Linked DNA regions of Homo sapiens. The protein of the gene in region 5 interacts with the protein of the main gene of each other region in a pairwise test. Each region holds a gene or a part of one and is shown on either strand. Other genes may lie near its edges.

Region 1 (3,500 bases), about 70 Mb from region 5:
TGCTGATTAAAAACAGAACAATGTTCAAGATGATAAAGTAACCAGGCATGATTAACATAAGAGCTTTCTCAGGGTCAAAGGAAGTTAACCTTCCTTGTGGATTTGGTTCCTTAACCTTTTAAAATGTCTGAACCCTACAGTGCTCTCATTTTTCTGTACATGCTCCATCAGCCAAGCCAAGATTTTAGGCTTAACTTTTTTTTTTTTTTTTTTGAGATGGGAGTTTCGCTCTTGTTGCCCAGGCTGGAGTGCAATGGTGCTATCTCGACTCACCACCACCTCTGCCTCCTGGGTTCAAGAGATTCTCTTGCCTCAGCCTCCTGAGTAGCTGGGATTACAGGCATGCGCCACCACCATACCCGGCTAATTTTGTATTTTTAGTAGAGACAGGGCTTCTCCATGTTGGTCAGGCTGGTCTCAAACTCCTGACCTCAGGTGATCCACCTGCCTCAGCCTTCCAAAGTGTTGGGATTACAGGCATGAGCTACCGCGCCTGGCCAGGCTTTACTTTCTATAGATGAAAATAAGTACGCTGAATGTGTACTTCCTAACTATTCAGTTTGCTTCTATGTACACAGTGAAATGTAAGAAAGAATGCCTGAAATGTTTCTCCAAGTATGGTTCCTGGACCACCAGCAGCATCACTTGGGAACTTGCTAGAAATGTACATTTTCCAGCCCCTTGAAGACCTATGAAATAAGACACTTTAGGGTAGCATCTAGCTCTCTGCTGGAGCAACCCTTCCAGGGAGACTCACGCCTGTGCAAGTTTGAGTACCACTGCCTCACAAGAGCTGATTTAGTCACATTTTGGTTTCAGAAAGAAAAAGTTATCATTTAGAATGTTTCTTCATCTCATTTCTTTTGCTATTTACTAGTTTATTTACTTTAATCACCTATGGAAATCTACCCAAATCCTTTTTTTTCCAGTGATTTTTACCATCACTGAAACCTGTGGCTAAGTAACCAAGGACTTCTTACTTCATTGCCATATCTTAATAATGTTTTTGGAATCCAGGTGAAGATTTTACCTCACCGGAAATGTCACCACAATCCTTTGCACTAAACAATGATCATTTTATGTTGATATAAATTCTCATACAGTTTTATTAACTACTAGCACAAGAAGGACACCTTCTTGACAAGGAAAACCCTACAGTGGTTAAGTTCAAACATGTTACACCATGACCCCCACTCCAAACCATCCCTCTTCTGGATCATGCTCCCAAAGCTAGTCTAGATAATCCTACTTCTTACTTTGTAGTCACAACAAACAATTGAGCCATCCTCTAAAATTAAGCATAAAACCCAGTTCTAGGGGATAAAAGCATAAACTGACTCCTGTTTACCTGTTGATACTGAGATCCAGGTGAATGGGGGTACAATGGGGCATCTTCAGGTGGAGGCGACTCATGTTCATCTGGAGCATCTTGGTCATCTGGCTCCTAATTTTGAATATTTCAAGATAAAAAATTACGTAGGCAAACTCAAGTTTACTTTTAACTTTTTCTATTTGAAATAAATTTTAAAAATCTACAAAACTGACCCATTAGCAACTTTTCTTTTACTGCAGATAAAGAACTTGGGGAAAAAACAAAAAAAAAAAAAACAAAACAAAAAACCTGATTTGCATTCTCTCAGAACTACTACATTTCAGGCAATTTCACAGAAATTTCTCCAAAAGAAAGCTCCCTTCATTAGCTTAAAATGACATAGAATAAACATTCTTTTCTTTTCTTTTTTTGAGATGGAGTTTCACTCTTGTCACCCAAGCTGGAGCCCACTGGCACGATCTCCGCTCACTGCAATCTGTGCCTCCTGGGTTCAAGTCATTCTCCAGCCTCAGCCTCCCAAGTAGCTGAGATTACAGGCGCCTGCCACCACGCCCGACTAATTTTTCTATTTTTAGTGGAGATGGGATTTCACCTTGTTGGCCAGGCTGGTCTTGAACTCCTGACCTCAGGTGATCCGCCTGCCTCGGCCTCCCAAAGTGTTGGGATTACAGGCGTGAGCCACCATGCCCAGCCGAATAAACATTTTTCAAAACCCAAAACTTCAACATAATCTTTTAATAATATCATTAATACATAAACACTGGCCTATAAAATAAAGAATTACTTTGCTCTCTTCCATTTCTATCTGCTGCACACTGGTGGCTTTTTTTACCTCCTCTGGACAGAGTTCACAAGCTTTTGCAAGTGTCATCCTAGCACTATGTGATCTCTCCAAGAAATAACCATTGGACGTTTCATTGCTTTGCACTGGGGGAGACCAATTGTTGTAAGTGTACTGAGGATTGCCAGTATATGGTCTTCTTTCAAGTTCATCTCCAAGCCATTCCACTGCCCAGGTCCACTTTCTTTTAAGATCTCCATTGCCCTGCAAAAGAAAATAAAACCATATAGATAAGAGGATTTGGAATACTTCAAAGTTAACTTAAAATGACAACCCCAAGTTCTCATGATTCTCTTCTTTTAAAACAGAATCCTTAATTCTGATTAAGATTTCTACAAAATTATAAGAAAAAAATCCTCACCTGCAGGATTTGGTAAGCAACAGGACAGTTACTAAATAGAGCTACCATACATTTTATACACTGGTATGCTCTTTTTTGATAGTGATTCTTAGAGCGCTGGATTGTGTCAAACAGCCCATCTCGGTCATCTGGAATTCCTTTCAGTGCATTATGAATTCTGAAAGAGAACCAGATATAAAATAAAAACATCTAAAATCTAATAGCTAATATATACTGAGTGCCTACTATGTGCCACTCAATAATGTCTTTTAGTCATTTAATCTAACATTAGACAATAGGTACTATTATTAAACCTTTATTTTTTATTTATTTATTTTTTTTGAGACGGCCTGGGCTGGAGTGCAGTGGCGCCATCTCGGCTTACTTCAAGTCCTGCCTCCCAGGTTCACGCCTCTCTCCTGCCTCAGCCCAACTACAGGCACGTGCCACCACGCCCAGCTAATTTTTTGTATTTTTAGTAGAGACGGGGTTTCACCGTGTTAGCCAGGATGGTCTCAATCTCCTGACCTCGTGATCCGCCTGCCTCGGCCTCCCAAAGTGCTGGGATTACAGGCATGAGCCACTGCGCCTGGCCTTATTATTAAAACTTTTAACAGGTGAGAAAATTGGCACAGAGTTACACAGCTTGCCGAGGTCATATAGCTGCGGAGCAGTGTGACTCCAGAGTCTGTGCTCTTACTAACTTATTACCAGTCCAAAATAATTCTGCCATATATGTAATTTAAACACATTACCTGAAGTGAATTCAGGACACTCGAGAGTAATGCAAACTTTAAAAAAGTTATAACTAAGTTTATGACTGCTGTAGTTGAGGGTAATTTGCTACACATCAATACCTTTTATAAAACTGCATCTCTGAAGGCAAGTTAGGATTCAGTGACATAATTTGGAGGTACAGTATTTGAATTCTAATAATGAGAATACATGGCAGGCAAAGCATTTTGACAGGCAATAGTACAATTTGG
Region 2 (3,500 bases), on a different chromosome or scaffold from region 5:
TATAAAAACTAGCCAGGCGTGGTCATGGGCACCTGTAATCCCAGCTACTCAGGAGGCTGAGGCAGGAGAATTGCTTGAACCCAGAAGACAGAGGTTGCAGTGAGCTGACAGGGTGCCGCTGCACTCCAGCCTCAGCAACAGAGTAAGACTCCATCTCAAAAAAAAAAAAATATATATATATATATACAAATATTACAGAAGAATTTCAAATGTACAAACAGAATATGAGTACTGCCTTTTTTTTTTTTTTAAAAGAGTCTCACTCTGTCACCTAGGCTGCAGTGCAGTGGTACAATCACGGCTCATTGCAATCTTAACCTCTCGGGGCTCAAGCGATCCTCCTACCTCAGCCTCCCGAGTAGCTGGGACTATGGGTGCTCACCACCAAGCCTGGCTGATTTTTTTTTTTTTAAACAGAGATGGGGTTTTGCCATGTTGCCCAGACTGGTCACAGAATTCAGAGCTCAAGCGATCTGCCCACCTCAGCCTCTCAAAGTGCTAGGACTACGGCATGAGCCACCATGCCCGGCAGGAGTACTGCTTTTAAGGAAGGAATGAAATAGATTTCCTCACAACACTAAAGTATGAATGACATTTACAACATAGGAAAAGCTAGAGAAACAAGGTTCACTCAGAGTGATAGTGCTATACTATAGTATCCAAGAAACAGAGCTAATGTAAGGATGCTAATTCTAGCAAGAAGAAACTACTTGAAAAAAAGACAATGTACATCAGAATAAAAATAGGCCATTATAAAAAAATTTAGAGATGAAGAAAATCCCAGAAGCTCTAAAGGAAAGCTGGAAATGGAGAGATTATCATAAAAGACCTCAGGGAAATAACACATTATTAAAGACAGAAAAATAACTGTGCTCTACCTGCTTATGAATTTGATCCCTATTTCTAATATAAATCCCTCGGCATATTTCCCTTATAAACAATTCAGATATCTGAAGAGTTTATCAAGGCCAGGTGCAGTGGCTCACACCTGTAATCCCAGCACTTTGGGAGGCCAAGGCAGGCAGATGACTTGAGGTCAGGAGTTCAAGACCAGCCTAGCCAACATAGTGAAACCCTATCTCTACTAAAAATACAAAAATTAGCTGGGCGTGGTGGCATACACCTGTAGTCCTAGCTACTCGGGAGGCCAAGGCAGGAGAATCGCTTGAACCCGGGAGGTGGAGGTTGCAGTGAGCTGAGATTGTGCCACTGCACTCCAGCCTGGGCAACAGAGGAAGATTCCAACTCAAAAAAAAATAAAAAGAAAATTAAAATAAATAAAATAAATGTTAAAAAAAAGAAGAAAAAAGAAAAGTTTATCAATAACCATGGACCTAATTTAGTTAATCTATTACTTTGGCTACTACAAGAGTGAGGTTTTCAAATAACGTATTTTACTTAATAAAGTTATTAACATTGCCCCTTACTGATATTTCCTTTCTGAGGGACAAGGAGAAATGCAGTAAAATAAAGCAAGGTTTAAAATTCCTTCACTGCAAATAATTTATCTAAACAAGAATGAGATGTTCTAAACCACTTTATATGTAAAACTCCTCATACATGCAAAACAAAGTTTTTTTGTTTTTTTTGTTTTTTTTTTGAGACGGAGTTTCGCTCTTGCTGCCTAGGCTGCAGTGCAATGGCACAACCTCAGCTCACTGCAACCTCTGCCTCCCGAGTCCAAGCAATTCCCCTGCCTCAGCCTCCCAAGTAGCTGGGATTACAGGCACGCGCCACCATGCCTGGCTAATTTCTTTTTTTTTTTTGTATTTTTAGTAGAGACGGGGTTTCACCATGTTGGTCAGGCTGGTCTCAAACTCCTGACCTCGTGATCTGCCCGCCTCGGCCTCCCAAAGTGCTGGGATTACAGGTGTGAGCCACTGCACCTGGCCTAAAAACAAAGATTTCTATATTATATTGATATGTAAAATTCTTTAAAATTTTGGGAAATATATGCAAGAAAAAGAAATACATAAAACATATCCATAACAAAAGTAATATCAGGTTTATTAACTATGATACATTTGAAACAGGACATTAAGACTCCCAGAAGACTTTTCTCCCTCAGGTTTTCCAGGCAAAATTAATGGTTGCTGACAGCTCTGCAGCAAGTACTAGTTAAAACAATGCAAGGATAGTGGGGACCTTATCATCTACTAATCTAGGTGGAAATGTTACTTTGGGTTGTCTGAAAGGCAAAGCTAGATACAATTAACTACCAGTGATAGGTATTCAACTCAAAAAGAACTAAGGTCAAGCCTTACTTCCTTTTTTGTTTTTCCTACCCAGAGGTAGCAGAACTCTTGTTATTCATCCAAGAATACTGTGTAGCTCTTATGATTCCCACTGAAAAATATTCAAATTATACAAAAGCAATCCATTTCATTAACTGACCAGTTCTAAAAATTAAATAAGAATAACTATTACCAAACTTTGTGTTTTATTAATTTGGCATTACAAAGAATAGTTTTTATCATGTGTTCATAATCCAACTGTAAGACTTAAAAGTTTGGCCGGACGCGGTAGCTCATGCCTGTAATCCCAGCACTTCCAGCGGCCGAGGCTGGCGGACAGTGAGGTCAAGAGATCGAGACCATCCTGGCTAACATGGTGAAACCCCGTCTCTACTAAAAATACCAAAAAAAAAAATTAGCCAGGCATGGTGGCGGGCGCCTGTAGTCCCAGCTACTCGGGAGGCTGAGGCAGGAGAATGGCATGAACCCGGGAGGTGTAGCTTGCAGTGAGCCGAGATGGCACCACTGCACTCCAGCTGGGCGACAGAGCGAGACTCCATCTCAAAAAAAAAAAACTTAAAAGTTTAACGTACTTACATTACCTTCTTTCAAATGCTAATTAAGCTCCCTGAAAAGCTTATGTTCACTCACAATAAAGGAAAAGAATCATTATCATAATGCTATTTTCACAACAACTGGTAAAATTATATTATTATAATCTTTAATTAACTCAATTATTTAATGGCACACATGTACTCTCTAAGACAGAAGCCTCAAAGGAAAATAGTAATTGTGAGAACAAAGAGGCCCATTTTACCTTAGTTCTTCAATTTGTGAAATCCATTTAAGGTAAGCAAGATGACGTTCGATCTCTTCAATCTGGCTAATCATGGTTCCAAGATCGTCCATCCAAGGTTGCGCAGTCAGCAAATGGCTGTTAATGGCGCTGAAGAGATGAGTTTCCTGCTCCAGAAACTGATTAAGAAATTGCTTTGATTCTTCTGCATTTTTTAAGGCACTTCGAATTCTTTTAGGAATTTCTGATGAAATTGTAAGTACCTGACCATAATTTTAAAAAAGAAAGAAAGAAAGAACAGCAGCAATCAGATAAAATTTTCATAATTTTTTTTTTGAGAGGGGATCTCACGCTGTTGCCCAGGCTGGAGTGCAGTGGTACCATCATAGCTCACTGCAGCCTGGACTTCCTGGGCTCAACCAATCCTCCCACCTCAACCTCCCCAGTAGTTGGGACTACACATATGCACC
Region 3 (2,599 bases), on a different chromosome or scaffold from region 5:
TCTTTCAGCAAAACCTTTCGGAGAAGCCCAATACTAAGCTCCTCTGGTTAGAGCCAGCCATGAGAGAAACTCCAAGTACTTCTGACTGGTTCTCTCTCTACTCATCCACCCCTTAGGTGGCTGCAGAAGGAACTCTGTGCAACCCCCAGAGTTCTCATTCTCAGTGACAGGGAAATGTAATGATTGGCCCTGGATGATTCAGCAGATCAGATGATACTTACTCAGAGCAATTTCCACTCCTTTGCAGTAGCATATTATCAGTATTTTCCAGATAAATAACTTGGCTAAAGAAAAATCCATTTCATTTACATCTTTGGCACCTTACAGCAATAGAACTTTTGTGCAATGATTTTAATATTATATTTCTACATTGGCTGATAAGATACATATGGCTATTGAGCACTCAAAATGTGGGCTAGTGCAACTGAGGAACTGAATTTTTATCTTCTTTTTTTTTTTTTTTTTTTTTGAGATGGAGTCTTGCTCTGTCACCCAGGCTGGAGTGCAGTGGCGCAATCTTGGCTCACTGCAAGCTCTGCCTCCTGGGTTCACGCCATTCTCTTGCCTCAGCCTCCCCAGTAGCTGGGGGTACAGGTGCCTGCCACCACGCCCGGCTATTTTTTTTTATTTTTATTTTTTTTAGTAGAAACGGGGTTTCACTGTGTTAGCCAGGATGTTCTCGATCTCCTGACCTCGTGATCCGCCTGCCTCGGCCTCCCAAAGTGCTGGGATTACAGGGGTGAGCCACCGTGCCTAGCCATTTCATTTTAATTAACTTAAATTTAAATAGCTCCATGTGGTTAGAGGATACTGAATTAGCACAGTCTTAGAGAGTTCCTTCTTGTTCCATGGACTGGACACAATGAAGATTAACAGTAATTAAGGTCACTTCTGGTTTAGATGTGCTTTATCTGAGAGGAAAATTCAGCCAGCAAACATACAAAAAGAAAGCACAGTGTGAAGTTCGGTGTTAAGAGCTAGTTTGCCTGCGTTTGAACCCTGCCTGGCTCTGCCATTTCCTACCACTTAACTGCACTGTGGCTGAGTTTTCTGATCTGTAAGGTGGGAATAATAATGATACCTATCTCATAGGGGAATGAAAGGATCAAATGAGTTCATATTTGTAAAGCAATTTGAAAGAGTGCCTAGCCCACAGTAAGTGCTACATAAGAGTTTGTTAAATGAATCTGCAAAAAAAAAAAAATTACAAAAAGGTACCTAAGGGTCCGGGTGACTATATGCTTCCATCAAGACTAGTGAAGAATGGTTGTTTTTTCCATTCATCCCTACATTTCTTTTTTTAATAATGATAAACATGCAACTTTTTTGTAGCTTTACAACAAATACCCAGATGCTGTGGCCACATGGCTAAACCCTGACCCATCTCAGAAGCAGAATCTCCTAGCCCCACAGGTATTTTTAAACTTCTCATAATTAAACTACAGTGATGAAAGATAGCCACACTCAGGCCATTTGGGCTGCTCAGATGAATCCTGCCTGCCTGCTGGCAAACATGTGCTTAGGACATTGACTGATCTGCCATGTTGGCTTCTCTCTGTGTTAAGCCATCCACAGATGAGGCTGAAAAATAAAAACTGCTTTGGATTAAAAAGGTTAACTTTTGAATAAAAAAGCTAGGCATGTGTGATGCGCACTAACACGTGCCATTCCTTCTTCAGAATGCTGTGTCCTCTGAAGAAACCAATGACTTTAAACAAGAGGTAAGTTCTCATTTTCAATCAGAGGCCCATCATGCCTTGAAGAGATGAAAGAAGGCATTGCCTGGATTCTCTTCTGATGAAATTTCATTAGCAAGTTTTCCAGCTAATTGGCAGTCTAAAACTTGCTCATAAATAAAACATGTATTTACTAAATATCAGAAATACTAGGTTTCCTCGGATAAGTTTAGCATTACAGAAGATGTTTATTAATGCCTGTTATTTGAAACATTAATCTGCTTGCAATTTATTTAAGGTATTTTGTAGATATCTAATATCTAATAAGCATCTAATTAATGCATATCAAAGCTAAGATTTTGCCTTTAGGAAAGTTTTCTTTCCTAATAAAATAGTTTATTTGACAACTATTCTTTTTATTAGGATCATTCATATATTTGCTAAGCAAAGAGTAAATTTATTTTCCTTAAGATTCAATTTGAATATACTAAGAATATTAAAGCAAGTTAGATAAATTACCCAATATATTTGTCAATTTGAAATTTGATAGACATTAGTTGTTTAATTCAATGGGCAGTTTTGAGCTGCAGTTTATACACACATGCATAACAGAGTCACCTTTCAATTATCCATGTTAATAGGAAAGTGGTTATAGATTTTAGTACACACATTAAAATATGGATACTCTTCTCTTTTGATAAATCTCATTTCAAATAAAAAAACCAGTCTCATAATTATGTATCTGTATCTATTACATCATTGAATTTAGTAAATAATGTTTAATATGTATAAGGAAAAACAATGTTATTGACATGAAGATTATACTCACATATTTGGCTTGAAAATATCTATAAAAATAATTTCTGTTGCAAAGTAAGAAATGTTCTTCAGAATGTTATTAATCCCTGTGTTAAAAGAGAAAT
Region 4 (2,476 bases), on a different chromosome or scaffold from region 5:
AATTTGATGTAAGAGTGACCAATTTGATGTGAGAGTAAGTTAGAAGAGTGAATGATGATCCTTAGATTGCTAGGAAAGAGGGCCCAGCGGGTCAGCTGTGTTAGTGTGTGGAGACTAGGGCTAGTGACACCTCCGGGTCAGCTCTGTGCCCAGGAAGCACTTCAACCTGTGTGGCAGGAGGGATAGCAATAGGAAGCACTTCAATTCCCCACAACTCAGACACCCAGACGGGAGGGCAGAGGACCAAGGCTGAAAGGAGTAGAGAGCCTGAGAGAGAGATGAGACTGAGGGGAGCTAGTGGTGACTCAGGCTAACCAGTCAGCGGGAGAGACCTAGACCGGGGGGCAGAGAAGGCGGGAGAACTGGAGAGAGGACCTAGCCTAGGAGGAGAGGGAGCAGGCTGAGAAGGAAATGCTCTGGGTAGGAGAGACAGACTCCAAGGAAAAATCCAACAAGTAGAGGAGGATTTGGGATTGGAAAAGCTGAGGTCCAGCTGGGAGAGCTGAAGAGGGATAGAACAGAAGAGGTTGAGCCATGGGGTTTCAAGTACGCGGAAAGGAGCAAAGATGTTAGGAAAGGGTCGAAAGGGCACATCCCGGAGTCCCAGGTAGCAGGACGAGGATGGCAGGGGAAGAGCCAAGGAAATGAAGCGGAGATGTTGAGTGGCTCCCGCCTTGCCTGGCCTTACCTGTGCGCAGCCAGTTAGCAGCCGCAGCCACAAGCACAGCTACTTCAGGACTGAGGCCAGCAAGCTTTTCCTATAAATGGCCATATAATAAGTATTTTTGGCTTTTTGGGCCATATGGTCTCTGTCTCAACTACTCAATTCTGCCTTTGTAGTTCAAGAGCAGCCATAGATGATACAGCCATTAATGGGTCTGGCTGTGTTCCAATAAAACTTTATTTACAAAAATAGTTGGCAGGCTAGATTTGACCTGTAGGCCACAATTTGCTAGCCTTCCCTCTCCCTGCTCTAGAATAGTAAATACAGGAGTAGGAACAGACTTTTGATAGGGTGTTCCCTATCAGGGCACAGGGAAAATGGTGAACTCAGCTTCATACATACTAAGTTGACAGATTGACTGTGGAACCTTCTGGTAGATTCTTCACAGGCAGTTAGCCTTTGAGTCTGCAGACTGGGAAAAAGACTGGGAAAAAGTTGAGAGAGGGATGGAAGAGTCATTCATGTGGAAGGGAAGTTTGAAGTAGATGTTTTTGTGATGCTCCCAAGGCAAGGCCACCCTGGGAATGAATTAGAGTAAATTTAGGGCCAAGGACTTAACCCAGAGGATCCAGCAGTTAAGGAAGGACCTGTGAATAGAGAAGAAATAACCAGAAAGGTGTGGGGCCTGCCTTTAAAGGAGAGAGACTCATGTCCTGGAAGCTAAGAAAAGGAAGTTTCTAAAAGAACAATGTGGTCATCAATATCAAATAGGTCAGGTAAAACAAGAGCTGAAATATATGCATTGCATTTGAAAGTAAGGCTGCCATTGGTGAACCAAATGACAAGAATTTAGGTGGAATGACAGGGGAGAAGCCTGAGTGTAGTGGGCTGGGGAGTCAATAGATGGTGAGAGTTATAAACAAGAAGTATAGGCTCTTTTTTTCTTTCTTTTTTCTTTCTTTCCTTTCTTTCTAGAAAAGGCAGTAGCTAAAAGGGGATTTAAGGTAAGAAGAAGGGTTTTGTTTTGTTTTGTTTAGGTTTGTTTTTAAAATACTGCTGTTTTTGTTGGAGAGGCTTAAGAATATAAACATGTTCAGAGAAAGGCACTAATGGAGAAGTTGAAGATAGAGAATTGAGATAATAGGTGGAACAGCATTTTGGAGGAGATGGCTGGGAGTTACCTGGAAGCCCAGGAGTTCACTAGACCTGAACAGCAGCTATTTTTTCTTCTTTGCCCTTAGACTGAACAAGAGACCCTTCTGCTGAGTACAGCCTGTCCTCCCACCCAGGAACACCCTCTGCCTAATGACAGGACCTTCCTGGGAAGCATCTTGACAGCAGTGGCAGATGAAGGTTAAAGGCCCTGGGATTTGGGGGTGGGAAAGTTGTGACGCTGCTCCTGATATCTTCTGCTGTTGAAGATGTCCACCAGCGGGCTTGTCTATCTTACCCTGGCTTCCATTATGGTAGACCCCTGCCTGGATCATCAGAGGGGCCCTCTCCCATTATTGGTTTTTCTCTTAGAGCCAGAATCAACTCCTGTGCCCTTGCTTGGAAGTGACAAGAGTGCTTTCACCCGAGTAGCATCAATGGTTTCCCTTCAGCCCGCAGGTTAGGAGGGGCTCCAGGGATCCTGCCTCATTTCTAGAAAATCTGGTGGTGATGAGTAAAGACGAAAGCAGTGAGAAGTGCTTTGCTCTAAAAACCTCAATTCTACTTGGGCTCATTTTATTTCTGCCTTCTGGGATCTGTAATGTTCCAGACATTCAAATCCTGTGGGTGGGGAACACGGATAAGAGTTGTGGAAATGAT
Region 5 (3,500 bases):
CTGGAGCTTGCTTCCCTAGGAGATGGAGGTGTCCCTTTATATATTATTTGGAACAAAAGCAGAATGCCAAGGCATGGTATATATTCACAAATGTTGGAAATTTATAATAAGAATGATAGAGATAAAGTAGGGGGAAGAGGCTAGGCATGGTGGCTCATGCCTATAATCCTAGCACTTTGGAAGGCCAAGGTGGGCGGATTGCCCTAGCTCAGGAGTTCAAGACCATCCCGGGCAACACAGTGAAAACCCGTTTCTACTAAAATACAAAAAAATTAGCCGGGTATTGCAGCGTGCGTCTGTAGTCCCAGCTACTTGGGAGGCTGAGGCAGGAGAATTGCTTGAACTCAGGAGGCAGAGGTTGCAGTGAGCCAAATTCACACCACTGCACTCCAGCCTGGGTGACAGAGTGAGACTCTGACTCCAAAAGTAAATAAATAAATAAATAAAGTAGGAGAAAGAGAGCTAACATTTATTAATATATGAAAATTGCCATAAATCTCATTTAATGATGAATTATATGCATATATATATATATACATCCATGTGTCAATTTACAGAGTGCTTTCATATCCATTATTTGATTTAATCCTCATAAGAGTCCTGTGAGCATGCTCAGGGCAGGTGTGATCAGTCCTTTTGTACAGAGAAGGAGTGTGAGGTTCAGGACAGTTAAGTGGTTAAGTGACAATATCAAGACTAAAGTCCAAATCTTCTTAATCCCAGTCTTATGTTTTTGATTTGCATATTCCTATATTACTTCAGAAGGCTGAAGGCACAGGGAATCAGATTTATGCCTAATATAAAGAAACTCTAAAAATCACAGCTGTTGAACAGTGAAATAGGCTGTCTTATAGTCTTATAGAGTGATTGTAGAGGATATCCATGCCTTAGGTGGAAGATTAAATGTCATGGCTTCTAAAGTCATTCTCAACTCTGTGATCCAATGATTCTAAACTTTCTATGTCCTATTTCTCTGAGATGAGGCTTTGGCAATCAGGCCTATACTTAGACAGCTCCTGTTTATTACATACATGGTGCTTAGAAGATAGACACTCTTAGAGAAATGCTTGGGAATTGGAGATTTTCCCAACATCACAGACAAACCCATTGCTTCAGTACAACAAACAGAAGTCAGGTATAACCAATGTGTCCAGGTAGCTCTCAGATCGCAAAATGATGGGAAACAAAGCCAAATATTTCTCAAAATTGCAAAGTACACAGTACCTGGGTGAGTTTTCCCTGAAACTTAAAATCTTGGAGCACACATTACTATCAGAAATTATAGGAGGAGGCACAGGTCTGCATTTGAACACTCATCAGTAACTTTGATATATAGTGAATCCGCCTTTTAGGAATACCTTTTCTATATAGTTGTTTAAACACCAAAGGCATTTTAAGAGGTAGAATATATGGACTGATACTAATCCACACTTGTCTTTTCTGATGGGAGACCAGAATTCTCTTTAGAGCCAACAGAACCAGCCACTGTTCCAATTCCCTTGGAACATTTTTGTTGTATATTTACAGCTCCCTATGCTTAAGAGAATGGTGCATCTGTCTGATGGAGACGCCTGGCTGCATTCTTTCCCAGATATTAATATAGGTGGCACTTTAGTAGTATAACCAATGACATGAAGAACCTGATTTGGAGGGGGAACAGATGGCAGCATCTTTCTTGGGCTAATTTTAGGATCCTGAAATAGTCCCTTTCTCACACAAACCATCAGTGGAACCAAATTAAGACAGCTATGTCATATGGAAAAGAGAAAGAGAATAAATATGGTTTAGTGTGAGGCAAAGACAACGAGCCAGAGGCTTCAGTGCTTTCCCCGTATCTGACTTCTTTCAGAGCATATGAAGGTCACTTCAACTTCCTTTTATCAAAATAGATGCTGAGCATCAATGTGAGGGTATCTAAAAAGTAATGAATGGGCAAATATCATTTTCAGTCACATGTATTGAACAATGAAGGTTGCATCATATAATAGCTAAATTCATATTCATAAGAATTCATAGAACCTAGGTTCTAACACATCTTTCATAGCAGATAAGGAAGCTGAGGCTAAGTGACCTTTCTGCATGGTAAATCAGAAGCAGATTGAATTTCAAAGCCTCAGATTCCTGATTCATTGCTTTGCCTGCTAAAAATACCTTTTCTCCAAATGAAACCTATAATATCAGGTTGTGATGATGAGATGTGGAGGAAGAGTCCGTCAACAAGAAATGATATTTTAGGTATAACATGATCATCTAAGAATTTAGAAAAAACGGGAAAAGTACTTTGAAAAAGTACCTACCTGTTTTCCATCCAGAGTGTAGAGTTTTTTGACAACCCCGGTCTCCAGTTTGATGGCTTCTGTGATATCAGTGAGGACTTGCTCAAAAGAGTGGGCTGTCTTCTTGTTCAGAAGCACACGCACAGCCTTCCGAGGCTTCACCCCACTGCGGATGATGGTAACCAGCTTGGGGCGCACAAAGTCCTTGTTCTCCCTGGCCTGTGCACTGTTGCTGCTAGCCAAGGACTGGGGGGCTTTCATATTGGCAGATGTTTTTACGTTGACAGACCAGTTGGGATTGACATTCTTGGTGTACTCCACCTTTTTAAAGAAGTTGTCTGAGGAACAGACATAGCTTTCCCCTAAGGCAAGAAATAAGTGATTAGGTGATTAGTTTAATAGCAGATATATGGATTATTCTAACCAAACTAATACACACTGACACTGGAGTAGAACTTTTCAATAAATGGTGATACTAACCAACCTTAGGTGCAATTCCTAATTGGGCTAAAAACTTGGCTCATCCAAATTCAAGAGTAATTCTCAAAACATCCTTCAATATAATGACACACCTAGTTGAAGAACTCTGTAAAGCTAAGGGTTCTAAGGACAAAGAGCATATCTAAATTTAATATAACAAGTGGAGTTCCAAGCTTGATATGGTTTTTTCTGGAATTTAAACATTTATGTTAGTTTCTAGGATGTTTAGCTTTCAGGGGCATTACTGGAGAATTTTTAACATTTCTATTTCTTAAAATCCCTGTCCTATTTTTGGACTCAAAGTCCCATCCCTTTGTGATATTATGAACCAAGGAAAACTTTCAAAGTTAAAACATTTTTATGCCAAGTTAAAATGAACCAAGTAACCTTGTATATCAGGCATACATACATACTTGATAAGAAACCAGGTCATCCTTTGCACAGAGTATATGGCCAAGTATGGAATATTGAAATGTGAAATGTGTGTGCATATGTTGAATGTTTATATGTGTGTATAAGTGTGTCCTCTACTCCTTATGCTACACTAGGTAGAGAAACTGTCTAAATAACAACCAGTACATATAAACACCTTAGCTTTTGCTTGAAAAATACTCTCATGTTTCTACCACTCACCCTTCATCTTTCCATCCTCTCAAAGGATGCACATAAGATCTGTGTATTCAGGGTCATCTTCACCAGTGCTCACCCTTGGCTGCCACAAGTAATGAGGTAAAGAAGTGAGAA
Region 6 (3,500 bases), 3.5 Mb from region 5:
TAAAAGAAAAACCAACATTCTAGTCTGCAGATTATTTAGACTTCTTTCTACTGTTATCTGCTTTTCAGTTAGTTTACCACTTTTTAGCCACAGTTCTACTAGAGGGTAGAAAGGGAAAGGCGAGGAATATAAGCAGTGAATTCAGTCATTTCTATGCAACTCTAGTACAAAATTTAGTGAGGTTGAAAATTGAAAATAATAAGTCATGAATGTTTTGCAAGAGATCTGATCAAAGGGCTTATAATTAATCTGAGAGGAAGTTGAAGAGCCTAAGTTAAAACTAGTAAAAGAAACGATGGAGGGCAAACAGATATGCAGGAGAAAGAGGAGGAAGAATTGGTGGAGGTGCCCAGTGATTCTAATGAAAAGACAATATGGATTAAAAGGGTAGGAGCAATGTTTGAGGCCTTGCCTATGTTACCAATACACAGTATGAATCACAAGCTGCACATAAGATTTTAATACAAAGAGGAAAACATATAATCTCCAGATACACACCCAACAATACAAAGACAAACTTCACAATGAAGTACTATGCAGCTGTGAAAAAAATGAGGAAAAGATCACTATGAACTGATATAGAGTGATTTCAAGGAAATATTGTCAATTGAAAAAAGCAAATTCCAAAAGTATATATGTATATGTAGTATATATGCAGTACACTACTTTTTTGAGAGAAAGAAAAATAAGAAAACATCCATATATTTGCTTGGATTTACAAAGCAACAACAATAAAAACAGGAAAGATAAATAAAAAATTCATGAAGTTGGTTATCCACAAGGGGTAGGGGGTGGAGGAACAGGATTAAAAGGATGTGGGAGGAAATGACATTTCTCTGAATGTACCTTTTTGTATAGCATCCTCTTTGGGAAACACATTGTTTTACAAATTCAAAAAAATAAAATTAAATGAATACAGATGGGAAAATTGGGGACTAAAGCTGAAGGCAAACTGAAACAAACCCAACTGCATTTCAGACGAACAGCATAATTACATCAATGTAGTGGGGGTGGGAGGAAAACCTCAAACAAATCCTGAAGTATTGTTAGCCAGTTTGTTTTTGTTGTGGCGTGGACAGAGCAATTCAGAAACTATTTTAGATGTATTATGGGATTGAGCAAATGAGTACATGTGTTGATGTTGGGAGCCAGGGTTCATACTGTGGAAGAAGGAACATACAAATACAGAATGGAGAAAGGCAGGAAGGAACCTGTGGGGATGGACTGGAATTTAAGGTATTGGTGTAAACTCATGATTTCTAAAATATATATATGTTTGTGTATGTGCACATAAATATGCACATATATAAAGTATGTATGCATGTGTTATTATATATGTGTGCATATGCTTACATGTATGGATATTTGTGTTTATATCTAGCATATCTAGCACTCAGGTCTTGGTCTCTAATATTGTCCCACTAAAAGAAACCAGGGTTTCTTGGAAAATAATGACTGATTTCAAGGCTGGGACAGAATAAGGTCAAAATGAGCCTAGAACATTTTGTTATGCCAGAAAGTAAGGAAGTGCTCAAGAAAATGATGGGGGAATATTATAAGGACCCAGAAATCACCTTGAAAGGCTCCCAATGGCTAAATCTTGACAATTTGAACACCAACACAAGTAAGGGCTGTAAATAATTATTAACAATTGAAAAAAGATAATTCATCAGCCCATACTGATATATAAACAAATGGGAGGAAATGGGGAGTGGAACTCTTGCTTATAGTAGAATGCCAAGTGCCAACTTGAAAATGTGGGAGGGAATACTCAACTGGAAAAATCATCATTTTGCAATCATCATATTAATGATTGATTCAGGCAAGTATCATCAACTGATAATAAAACAAGGGTGGGGGTAGGGATGAGATGGTTTGATGAAGCAGCAGGGTATTTTTATGGTTTTAAAACATACCACACAGATTCCTTATTAGTGGCAAAAGAAAAAGTAGCAACTACAGTGAATAAATCAGACGACATCTTGACTAGGTGATCAAAATTAGCATCATCAGTGAAGGGCAAGTGGACATCATGTGTCTCCAGATATTATACCCTAAGAAAGAACTGTACTGCTAAATATAATCATGAGAAAACTTCAGAAAAAATCAAAATAAGGAACAGTATAATGAAGTATAATAAAGACATAAAAGAACACTTTTTAAAAAATGTCAATGTTGTTCAAGACAAAGAAAGGCTGAAGAAATGTTCCAGATTAAAAGAGATATGGCAAAAGAGATACGACAATTAAATGTAATACCTGACCCTAAACTATAAAGGACAATATTGGGTTCTTTATATGTCATAAAGAATATTATTTGGTCAAATGTCAAAAATTGAAATATAAATGGTGGTTAGATAAAAGTATTGCATCAACGTTAAATTTCTTCAAGTTGGTAACTATACTGTGGTTATGTAAGAGAATTTCCTTATTCTTAGGAAATATACACTGAAGAATTCAGAGGTGAAAGACCATGATGTATGCAATTTGCTCTAAAATGGTTCCAAAAGAACAGGGAATGTTAGCAAATGCTAAAGGAAATGGGACAAATATTAACAGTAGGTGAATTTGGGTAAAGAATATATGGGTGTTCTTTGTGCTAGTCTTGGAAAGTTTTCTGTGATTTTGAAATCATTTCTAAATTTAAAAAGGTAAATATATGATCCTCTAGGTATTACTGAGATTTAGTAAGATGGGACTTATGATTGAATTATGTCAGTGGAAGTATACCTCTTGTTCAAAAGGGAAAAATTACAATATGGAAATCCCTGAACCTGAGTGTAAATGTGTGGTAGAGAGTATTTGCATGAGAATGAAAAGGAAGGGAAATAGAAGTTATGTCTTTCTGGTAGTATGTTATGGTCCGCCTGGCTAGGCAGAGTTTACGGCTAATGCTTTTGTAATGCAAAACACAAAATTCAAACGGAGGAAAGATAATAAAGTAATCAGAAGACAAACACACTCAAATATCTGTTGGAATTCTCATTCACCTCACAGCATAATCTGAAACATCATTGGTTGTGATCATTTCAAATCTTAGAAGAGGTGGGAAGAAAGTTAAAAATCAGGAAATAAAGTTGAAAGAAAAGGTGAAGGGGGAATAATCCTCACCAACAAGCATGAAATTTCTGGATAAAGAAAATGTGAAAAAACGTCAAAGGAAAGTAGCTCTCAGAACGGAGGTTCAGTCAACTGTGGCAGGCCAGACCGGCAGGTAGGATTGGGATCCTGAATCTTCAAAAATACTTATTCCTAGTAAAATAGTTTCTCATTGCCATCCAAAATTTTGCTTCAGGCCTCTGCCCTTGTCCTTGTTCTAACAAAATTTTCTATCAATAACTAGAGGAAGAAATAGAAGGCAGGCTGTGAGGGTAAGCAAGTATATTTGAAGGTAGAATCTGTATCCCAAAGGATTTTAGCATGCTGAAATGAAGTGGCAGAACTAACCAGATAAAATGTACTAGGGATAAATTCAAGGCTTTGTATTTTTGTTTTAGACAT

Evidence for each region.
Region 1: the proteins of DCX (region 5) and USP9X interact in a two-hybrid assay, tested with the Homo sapiens proteins (one study listed by BioGRID).
Region 2: the proteins of DCX (region 5) and RINT1 interact in binary tests that used the Homo sapiens proteins (3 or more experiments, as listed by UniProt).
Region 3: the proteins of DCX (region 5) and SPP1 interact in a two-hybrid assay, tested with the Homo sapiens proteins (one study listed by BioGRID).
Region 4: the proteins of DCX (region 5) and SPAG5 interact in binary tests that used the Homo sapiens proteins (3 or more experiments, as listed by UniProt).
Region 6: the proteins of DCX (region 5) and MID2 interact in binary tests that used the Homo sapiens proteins (3 or more experiments, as listed by UniProt).

Annotation. Positions count from the first base shown.
Region 1 is NC_000023.11:41,228,445-41,231,944, reverse strand, and holds part of USP9X (ubiquitin carboxyl-terminal hydrolase 9X), read right to left. Parts: intron 2,693-3,500; coding exon 2,536-2,692; intron 2,379-2,535; coding exon 2,166-2,378; coding exon of another isoform or gene 2,118-2,165; intron 1,445-2,117; coding exon 1,349-1,444; intron 1-1,348.
Region 2 is NC_000007.14:105,542,201-105,545,700, reverse strand, and holds part of RINT1 (RAD50-interacting protein 1), read right to left. Parts: intron 3,294-3,500; coding exon 3,052-3,293; intron 1-3,051. UniProt on the Homo sapiens protein: Involved in regulation of membrane traffic between the Golgi and the endoplasmic reticulum (ER); the function is proposed to depend on its association in the NRZ complex which is believed to play a role in SNARE assembly at the ER.
Region 3 is NC_000004.12:87,978,714-87,981,312, forward strand, and holds part of SPP1 (osteopontin isoform OPN-a precursor), read left to right. Parts: intron 1-1,332; coding exon 1,333-1,413; intron 1,414-1,679; coding exon 1,680-1,721; intron 1,722-2,599. UniProt on the Homo sapiens protein: Major non-collagenous bone protein that binds tightly to hydroxyapatite. Appears to form an integral part of the mineralized matrix. Probably important to cell-matrix interaction.
Region 4 is NC_000017.11:28,579,550-28,582,025, reverse strand, and holds part of SPAG5 (sperm-associated antigen 5), read left to right. Parts: intron 1-1,905; coding exon 1,906-2,017; intron 2,018-2,188; coding exon 2,189-2,275; intron 2,276-2,476. UniProt on the Homo sapiens protein: Essential component of the mitotic spindle required for normal chromosome segregation and progression into anaphase. Required for chromosome alignment, normal timing of sister chromatid segregation, and maintenance of spindle pole architecture.
Region 5 is NC_000023.11:111,398,693-111,402,192, forward strand, and holds part of DCX (neuronal migration protein doublecortin), read right to left. Parts: intron 2,639-3,500; coding exon 2,298-2,638; intron 1-2,297. UniProt on the Homo sapiens protein: Microtubule-associated protein required for initial steps of neuronal dispersion and cortex lamination during cerebral cortex development. May act by competing with the putative neuronal protein kinase DCLK1 in binding to a target protein.
Region 6 is NC_000023.11:107,919,866-107,923,365, reverse strand, and holds part of MID2 (probable E3 ubiquitin-protein ligase MID2), read right to left. Parts: intron 1-3,500. UniProt on the Homo sapiens protein: E3 ubiquitin ligase that plays a role in microtubule stabilization. Mediates the 'Lys-48'-linked polyubiquitination of LRRK2 to drive its localization to microtubules and its proteasomal degradation in neurons.